Regions from separate parts of the Homo sapiens genome. Here regions 1 and 3 are each reported to be linked to region 2. The links are microRNA targets in miRTarBase. Many come from high-throughput screens and were not tested one by one. Region 2 holds a microRNA gene; each other region holds the end of a gene's coding sequence.
Evidence for each region. Region 2 holds the annotated microRNA hsa-miR-4652-3p (GUUCUGUUAACCCAUCCCCUCA, at 1,686-1,707, shown strand). A microRNA usually pairs through its seed, bases 2 to 8, with sites in the 3' UTR of a target mRNA and lowers its output. Matches are read on the target gene's strand: a 7mer-m8 pairs with bases 2 to 8, a 7mer-A1 pairs with bases 2 to 7 and ends in A, and an 8mer does both.

Region 1: miRTarBase lists KLF12 as a target of hsa-miR-4652-3p. Seed matches in the 3' UTR shown: 7mer-A1 at 2,354-2,360.
Region 3: the mRNA of SMIM14 is a reported target of hsa-miR-4652-3p. Seed matches in the 3' UTR shown: 7mer-A1 at 1,708-1,714.

Annotation. Positions count from the first base shown.
Region 1 is chr13:73,692,709-73,695,937 of GRCh38, forward strand. It overlaps KLF12 (KLF transcription factor 12), which reads right to left. Exons shown (of 8, transcript NM_001400136.1): 8 at 1-2,963. The coding sequence ends at 2,782. Among named protein-coding and RNA genes, the nearest start is that of LINC00393, 32 kb to the left of the region's middle.
Region 2 is chr7:93,715,292-93,718,553 of GRCh38, forward strand. MIR4652 (microRNA 4652) reads left to right here and starts at 1,637; the gene lies at 1,637-1,714.
Region 3 is chr4:39,549,530-39,552,791 of GRCh38, reverse strand. SMIM14 (small integral membrane protein 14) reads left to right here. Exons shown (of 5, transcript NM_174921.3): 5 at 634-3,262. The coding sequence ends at 666. All of the region lies in intron 2 of UGDH-AS1 (UGDH antisense RNA 1), which reads right to left. Among named protein-coding and RNA genes, the nearest start is that of UGDH-AS1, 23 kb to the right of the region's middle.

The sequences.
Region 1 (3,229 bases), not on the chromosome of region 2:
ACGTCTCAAGACAAGCCCCAAAGAAGTTTCAGTTCCTGAGGCTAGACCAGGGACTCAATTCACTTAATTGTGCTTAGATCCCTTCTTAGAAGTACTGATACGTCAAAAGGGGAAAATGATGGAATGCTGACAGGTTTTATCAGTTAACTTACCATCTCAGTCTGGTTTCCACTTTCAGAGGATGAGGGAAAATGTTCCCTTCCCCAAATCCATCCTATGTTATTAGAAAAGTGCAACTCATCTAGTTCTGTGCTAAATTTAAACCAAGCTGTCACTCAGGAAGATTCCCCTGCCTGTCAGTTTTATGAATTCTAAAAACCAAGTCTACCTGTAATACTCTCAAGACATCTTTCAGCAGAGAAAAGAACTGGCTCTTTTTATGAGAGCAAGCAGGACTAAATACAAATCTACACTTCACTTGAGAGATGCACCCACTACTTGCCAACTAGGTGCTGGTACTAGTGCCAGGGGGTTCATGGCTGTGTTTGTCCCTCTCTGTGTTCTCTGTCACTGACTAGTAACCAGCACTGGCATGCATCAACAGACCTTTTTCTATTCTGAATGGTCACAGGCAATGTGAAGTAGGAGTTGCATATAGTACAAAAAAACTTTCCAGGTGCTAAAAAAAACCCACTGGTTGATGAGTAGTAGACTGTGCAGCTAAAGATGCTATTTATCACTAGAACTGCAGCCCTTGTTGGAGGGAAATTGCTTGATGAATTTTTGAGACCTGGCAGACAATATAGAGCACATATTTGTGAAGCCATAATTTGACCTGAAAATCATTACACTGTTGCTTAATGTTTTAAAAAATTCCTTTTGAATACCATCCAACACAAATTGTCCTTGTTTCAACGTTCATAGTTCTCGCTTCATCAGAATAAGATTATCTGAATTAGAAGATGATCCTAAAAAGGGTAATTCTGTAACCGGAAATTATTTCAGAATGTCCAGACATTTAAAAATGAGCTAGTAATATTGTGAGGTTAATATGTGCAATTCCCAAAATCAAGTGTTTGTAATTAAAATATATTGCAAAGGTCTTTGTTGGAGACCTTTTATATCTAAGCTATAAAAAATTCTAGCAACAACAACAATAACAACAAAAAATCTCACCAGCCCCTCAGCCACAGAAAGCTGGAAAAAAACCCAGCTTGTGGTGGGGACAAAAATATGGTAATTTTTCTGAAAGAATGCTCGTTGGTGATGTATTGCTTGTTTACTGTATATGTTCCTAGTTGCAAAAAGGTTCATAATTTTATGGGGCTGATGGAACTAACACCTTCCTCTCATCCTCTGCACAGGATGAGTGGGTTCAATATCCCTGCAGATGCCAATGCAGGACACCTGGGTCCTGATACAGTTTAGAAAATGAAATCGGTATAGAAGAACCTATTGGAGAGTCACTTATCCTTGGCTCTCCAAGAGAGGAAACTAGCACCATGTCGGGCTTTCTATGGGAAGCATTCTCTTTCCACTGATTCAGTTCCAAGGAGAACTGACCCATTAACCGAAGAGTTAATTCCCGGCTATGCCTCCCTTGCCTTTCTAGTCACCAAATAACTGTTTTCAAACAAGAAAAGGGGAGCATAATCTTTAATTGTGGTACTCAACCAAGCAGGACAACAAACAGCAGAAAGATTACCTCAGTGCTGTAAATGGAACCAAGACACCTAAAATGCTGGGGTGTTTTTTACAATCCCTTTAGTAAGTATGAAAATTGGTAACGTGAGTCCTCAGTGAAGTTATTGTAGGAAAGTCCTTTTATTCATTATTGCTTTTCTCCTCAAGAGGCGCATTATTTCCATCTCTGCTTTGTCTGAGTTTTCATGTTCACTGACTTTGCCTGGGCAGCCCCACCTCTTACCTTGGTGCCAGTGTGTCTAAGAAAGTTTTTTTCCCCTGGTTCCTTGTAATCAAATACTAGGGGCAGGAAGAGATGATGCCTAGGTGACAGAACACTGCAATTTGAAGTGGGGCAGTAGTTTTTTAGACAGGCTCTTCCTATTCAACTACAGAACACCTCTGTGCCAGTCCATGCCAGGGCAGAGACCAGGACGAGACTTCAACTGCCCCTCTGCTCGAACAGATGAACAAAACAGAATCGAAACAAAACAAAAACAATCAACGACAAACAAATGAAAGATTCAATGTTGGTTTTCTTCAGGGCATGGCAGAATGACAAGTTGAGAGTGATATCTAGTGGCTGCCATCGCGATTGCAAAGGGCTGCCTGAGTGCCCTTTCTTTGCAGGTAATGGGACCTCTCCATCTGCTTCTTCGTTTCTACTTTCATGCTGCTTGCTGGTAACAGATTGGATGTGTGTTCTAGCTTACTCAGATTGTAACTAAAATTTCTGTAAAAAGGGGTTAAGGGATGGGATGATGGGAGATTCATCCAAATTTAAAAGGTCTTGCTCTAGCCATCAATTTGTGGTAGGTGACCTTTAAGGTATCAATAACAAAATGTCTGACAGCTCAGAAAATGTACAAGCTACAAACATCTTTAAATGGCAGAGGACACAGCACGGAAAACAATGCCTGTCTCTTCAGCATTTATGTCACTGAGCTCCCAGGCCCGGGTAAAGACGGTTCTCGTCTAGTCATGATGGGGGTTACCTTCAGACCAAAAGAAGTGTGCCTTCTTTTTCCTGCTCTGGTTTCAGACATCGTGGGATGGTGATGCCCTTTTGTGTTAACACTGTGAAGGGGATTCAGCCCTGCTGAATTGGGTGCCGCTAAGAGATCCAGCTCTTACGCTCAGCTGGACAGGTAGCATTCCTCACACCAACATATGCCTCCGGCGGTGCAGGGCCAAATGATCTGACCGGGAAAAGCTGCGATCACAGTCCGCGCACTTGAATGGCTTCACTCCCGTATGTTTGCGGTAATGCCTCGTCAGTTCATCTGAACGAGCGAACTTCCAGGTGCAGCCTTCCCAGGTACACTTGTAAGGTTTCTCTCCTGGAAGAAACAAAGGAACACAAGCTTTGGTGCTCCATCCATCACTTTGCCATAACCAGGCCAGTACTCTATTTTGGGAAACTGGTGTTCTCAATGAATTTTCCCGTTGGTAAATCTTTGTCGGGAAACCTTACCATCCCACCAGCGGTCTGGGTCAGACAGGTGATGGTTTCAATCTCGTCTTGCCTGCTGTGACATCTGGCAAGCTAGTTAACACTGGTGTCCTCCATTATGACTTTGCCATCAACATATAAAGGCATGGATTG
Region 2 (3,262 bases):
GTAGTATCAACCCAATTGTAGGTGTTAAGAGTTCAAAGATAGGAAGCTTTCTAGGGCATCAAAAACCCTCTAAAGATTTCGGAACTGCGGGAGGTAACATCTATCAAGAGAATTCGCCAGGGTGGCCGCCAGGGGTCTCCTGTGGACCAGGAAGCCTTGACCTAGGATAAGTCCATGGTTTATGAAGAGAGAAGGAGCCTGTCTTCATGGAAAGAGGGGAATGAAAAAGAAAGTCTTGTCCATATTTACGCGGCATAATCTTACATCCTAGAATCAATGAATGCTAGACCAGAAAGGAACTTGATGGATTTTCCAGCTTGGACCTCATTTTAAGATTAGGAAATTTAAACCCAGAGAGGTAGTGAGGACTAACCTGAAGTTACACAGCTGGTGAGACACACAGTTGGATAATACTACAGATATCATGGATGACTTTTATACCATCTTACACTGTTAAAAACTCAGAGACAATCAGTACATAGAATTGCCGCACTGCAACCACAAAGTGATTCAGGTGTTGAAAGTACTGATCTTTGGTATTATTTTCACATCATAGTAATGGCATATAATGTTTGGAAACATATTATATGCCTATTATAACTACTTCATATTATAATGTAGAACTTAGCTCAATTTTAATGTTCAAGAACTGTCAAATAAATGTCCATTATTCATTGTTTGACAGTTATGAATACTTTCTTTTCCCTTTCCTGGCTTAGACATCTTCAAGAATTAATCATTACACTCAGCTTTGTTGGTAGTGAAAAGAAAACAAGTGAAAATCTCAAAATATACCACTTTAAATATGCCATCCCTGTTAAATGTCCACATTTACACACCTGCATTGTGTGCAACTCTTTGGATTCTGTCCTCTGCCTGCATCGGGCTTCCTATATCCTTATCGCTTTCAGCCTCTCCTTTCTCCCATCTCAAAGATTTATCCGTACCTCCCTACTGGTGTCCCCTGGATCCTCATTGCCCAGCTTCCTCCTCCCTTGTCAGATGTAGCCTCTTTACTGTCATTCATTTGTACATCCATCCAATCCACAAATATTTCTTGAACTCCAGCTATATGCAAGCTCTTGTGCAAGAAGCTGTGGGATTACACAAAGCTGTGGGGTATTGTCAGAGATGCTTCTTCCCCACCTCCAATTCAACTTTACACCTCACAGGGTAAGCTGTAACAATTACAGATTGCTTTGCGGCCAGGTGCAGTGGCTCAGGCCTGTTGTAATCATAGCATTTGGGAGATCAAGGTGGGAATATCCCTTGAGCTCAGAACTTGATGACCAACCTGGGCAACATAGACTGTCTTTACTAAAAATTAGCTAGGTGTGATGGCACACATCTGTAATCCCAGCTACCCAGGAAGGAGGCTGAGGTGGGAGGATCGCTTGAGCCTGGACATCCAAGCCTCAGTGAGCCATGATCACACCACTGTACTCCTGGACAACTGAGAAAGACTCTCTCTCTCTCTCTCTATCTATCTATCTATATATGCATATATATAATATTATATATATAATACTTTAGATAACTAAGTTACATACTATATATATAACTATGCAAAAGTTGGTCAGACTGGAGTAGTGATGAGAGTGATAATGGCCAACAGTGATTCAGAATCGTTTGACTCTATTGGACGAGGGGACTGGTTAATAGAACTAACTAACCAGAACTATTTTGTTCTGTTAACCCATCCCCTCATCTAATAGAGTATAAACCTCAATATAAGCTCAACTAGGCTGAGTAAGGCCAAACAAGCAGTCCCCTAGTGTCAGACCAGAGAGAAAAAGTGATGAGAATTTTAAAAATCTTTGCAATCAATGTCAGTGGTGGTTGAGAAGACCTTCTGAAGGGAGACTATGTGATGAAGGATTACGAAGTGAAAGAAATGGTCAGCATATTGTTTCCATTGAAAAGACAGAAAATCTTAAATCCAAGGTCATGTTCCTGGCCTTGCTACTGACCTGTAGGCAACAACTCACTGAGTTTCAGACAGCAAGTCTCTCTTCTAACAAACAGCTGACAACACCTCCTCTTAAGTATTACCCAACCTCTGGCCCCAAAGCACTCCTCAGTCCTCCAGTGCTACAATAAGTCATAATGATTACTCAAATGAAATAGAGATCTTTATGAATGAATAAGTTGCGGTGGTATGAGTTTTGAAACCACATCCCAAACCACATAGTAGAGAACAACAAAATCAGGTCAACCCAGGTGCACTAAAGAGAACTTGCAAAGCCCTTAAACCTAGGAAAAGGAGGGAAGGAGAGGAGGAGAACAGGGAATAAGGGAGGAAGGGAATGAGGAGAGAGAGGAATGAAAGAAGGAAGGAACAAAGAAAGGGAGGGAGGGAACCAAAAGAAAGAGAAAGAAAAAGAAGGAAGAAATGGGGAGAAATGGGGAGAGAGAGAAAGAAAGAGAAAGAAAAGGAGGAAGGAAGGATGGAAGGAAGGAAAAGAAGGGAAGGAGGGAGGGAGGAAGGGAGGGGGGAATAGAGAGAGAGGGAGAGAGAGGAAGGGAGTGAGGGAAAGATGGAGAGAGGGAGGAAGGGAGGGAGGAAAGTTGAAAGCTTGTAGTATTTGCTGATTTTCATGGTGTATTTCCATCATATCCAATTTGTTGAATATGGAGTTCAGAAATGCTACCTGCAATTGCCTCTTGAGAGCAGGTTTGAGCTGGTGCCCACACCACTGTCTATCACTTTAGCCCTGTGAGTAACTGTCACTCATCTGTAAAATGGTGATAGCAATTTTGGCGTTGCCATTTCAAAAGACAACTGAGGAATTATTTGCCAGGGAAAAATATTTTTGATAACTAAGTTACATACCTTATAACAAAATTATAGCTGAATTAAATATTAGAGACTGAAAAAAATTAAGATAAATTATTCATGAATGTTACATAGTTTTTCAGCAAAATAACTTCCTATGAGTGATAACAAGAAAGCTATAAAGGAAAAGATTGAGGTATTGTATGGAATGAAAAGAAATTCTACTTTATGGCAAAAATATTATAAGCAGAGTTAAGGTTCATAGATACTTCTGCAGAAATTAAGAAAATAACATTAATGATTTTATACTATAATATTCCTCATGATTTCTGCTTTCTTTTGTATGCATGGTTATTATGTAATTCATACAATACAGTTTGAGGTCAGCAGACATTATAATCATCAGATGTCAAACTGCACAATCTGAGTCTCAGAGCTGAGTTGCCCAGCTTCTAAGTGTTATTTTTAGGGAAAATAGGAAATAAT
Region 3 (3,262 bases), not on the chromosome of region 2:
AAGTGGTTTAAAACAAGTGGCTTCATTGATTTACACGTCAAAAAAATTCAGAGGTAGGGTCAGTGTTAAGAAAGTTTCAACAGTGTCATCAAAGACCTAGTTTCTTTCCTCATACTAACAACTTCATTCCAAGATGGGCTCCCCTTAGGGTTATAGGATGACTACCAGAAGCAACTGCAGCCACATGCATCCTCGTAGACATTCAGTATTGAGAAACAAAAGTCCCTAGCTTCATTTTAAATATACAGTACTTTGCTTAGCCAATCGACTTTAGCAAGAGGGATGAAGATATTTTCATAGGTTTGAAGATCACTCCTGGGGTTGGCAGGAGTGATAACATCACTGTTGTACAAATTCCCTCTCTCTTCCATTCTACAGGGAAAAATGAGACAAATGGTGGAAAATCACAGTGTTATTTAATCTAGTGTTCCCTCATGTAAAAACATATGAAAAGTCCAAATAAGCATATATTTGGGATGGGATGGTTGGGGGCATTGCTGCTCAGTTGTTTCTCTATGTGTTAGATTGGTTGCACTGGGATTTAATAAGTCAATTTTTAAAAAAGTAATAAATTTTAAATTTTTTTGAATTTTTAAAAAGTCAATTAAATAATTTATTTCTTTCTAATGCCAGGGACAAGATCCACCAGCTCCTCCTGTGGACTAACTTTGTGATATGGGAAGTGAAAATAGTTAACACCTTGCACGACCAAACGAACGAAGATGACCAGAGTACTCTTAACCCCATTAGAACTGTTTTTCCTTTTGTATCTGCAATATGGGATGGTATTGTTTTCATGAGCTTCTAGAAATTTCACTTGCAAGTTTATTTTTGCTTCCTGTGTTACTGCCATTCCTATTTACAGTATATTTGAGTGAATGATTATATTTTTAAAAAGTTACATGGGGCTTTTTTGGTTGTCCTAAACTTACAAACATTCCACTCATTCTGTTTGTAACTGTGATTATAATTTTTGTGATAATTTCTGGCCTGATTGAAGGAAATTTGAGAGGTCTGCATTTATATATTTTAAATAGATTTGATAGGTTTTTAAATTGCTTTTTTTCATAAGGTATTTATAAAGTTATTTGGGGTTGTCTGGGATTGTGTGAAAGAAAATTAGAACCACGCTGTATTTACATTTACCTTGGTAGTTTATTTGTGGATGGCAGTTTTCTGTAGTTTTGGGGACTGTGGTAGCTCTTGGATTGTTTTGCAAATTACAGCTGAAATCTGTGTCATGGATTAAACTGGCTTATGTGGCTAGAATAGGAAGAGAGAAAAAATGAAATGGTTGTTTACTAATTTTATACTCCCATTAAAAATCTCTAATGTTAAGAAAACCTTAAATAAACATGATTGATCAATATGGCAGATGATTTACAGTCCATTATATGACATTTGTAAGCCACTCAACACTAGCCTTACAAGGTTCATGAAAGGAGGAAAACATTAATTCTTTCTGCCTTTGCTGATATAATCCACATAGTAATAATTTAAGCTATAATTTATTTTTAAAATGAGTGCCTCTTGGGAAGCTTCTTTTCTGTTCTAACAGTTCCCTGTTAAAATGAAAATCTTAGGCCAGTGCAGTGGCTCACACCTGTAATCCCAGCACTTTGGGAGGCTGAGGTGGGTGGATCACTTGAGGTCAGGAGTTCGAGACCAGCCTGGCCAACATGGTGAAACCCTGTCTCTACTAAAAATACAGAAAAATTAGCCAGGGTTGGTGCATGTGCCTGTAATCCCAGCTACTCAGGAGGCCAAAGCAGGAGAATTGCTTGAACCCGGGAGGTGGAGGTTGCAGTGAACCAAGATCGCACCACTGCATTCCAGCCTAAGCAATAGAGCGAGACTCCCTCTCAAAAAAAAAAAAAGAAGAAAATCTTAAAGCTGTATTAGGGCCTGTTAGGTTACTGATATTTGAATGCCTATTTACTTATTTACTACATTGAGTCTTTTGTTATCCTCTGACCTATAAAATATTTTAATAAATTACTGGTTTACTTCAAGGGAAAAGAAGGAAAATGAGAAACATACATCTTTTTTTCACTCCTTATCTCATTCCTGTTTGGTGATGGGATGGATTGGGGTAGGAAGGAATGTTAATATGAGAGAAATTTTAAAATGTATAAAAAAGTAAAAGGTTGTATTGTTTTGCTCAGTTTGAAATAAAGTGAATACCAATAGCACTTAAAAATGTCTGCATGGGCTGGGCACGGTGGCTCACGCCTGTAATCCCAGCACTTTGGGAGGCCGAGGCAGGCGAATCACCTGAGGTCAGGAGTTCGAGACCAGCCTGACCAACATGGTGAAACCTTATCTCTACTAAAAATGCAAAAATTAGCCAGGCATGGTGGTGTGTGCCTATAATCCCAGCTACTGGGGAAGCTGAGGCAGGAAATTGCTTGAACCTGGGAGACGGAGGTTGCAGTAAGCTGAGATCGTGCCACTGCACTCCAATCAGGGCGACAGAGCGAGACTCTGTCTCAAAATAAATAAATAAATAAAAATGTCTGCATGACCCATATGGTTATGAAGTTTTTTTCCTAGCAAATGATTGCAGATTATTTATGGGGGCTAGAAGATATTTTGCTATCAATGTAAGGATTTTTTTCCCCTTAGGTCAGTCTATTCACTGTTTAGATCTGGTAAATTACTTGTATGAATTGAATAAATTCTCTGTATCATTGTACTGTTTAATAGTCTCTGATACAATTGTGATACTCATAAGGTATTTTCCCCCCTTTATTATGATTACATTCTAGATCATAAACATTGTAAGGGCATCTTTTCATTATATAATCCAATATTGATTGTTTGAATTCCTCCTTGTACATCCTGGCTTTGTGCTCAATTTCTTGAAATAATATAACCAACTCTAAATTACTTGTGTTAATAGATCGGTAACATGACACAGGTAAGTTAAATCCTGGATAAATGAGCCCCACAGAATAAAGGTTTTTCCTCTTGCTGTGGCCTACTGGAAGCCTTCCTAACTCTATAGCTGGTAAAGTAGAGCAGAAAGGGCCAGAATGGCTTAAGATGGAGCTAAATCCCTATAGCATTCCATTTTCTGCTCTTGCCTCTTGAACTTAGAAGGCTTGCCCATATATCCTAACAATCTGTTCTCTGAGCTGTTAGGCCAATCCCTGGCAAGAGATATTGATGTAGTCACTGAATCTATGGCTCACAAATAATTGAAAATTGGCTTTGGGAGCTGGGCGCAGTGACTCATGCCTGTAATCCCAGCACTTTGGGA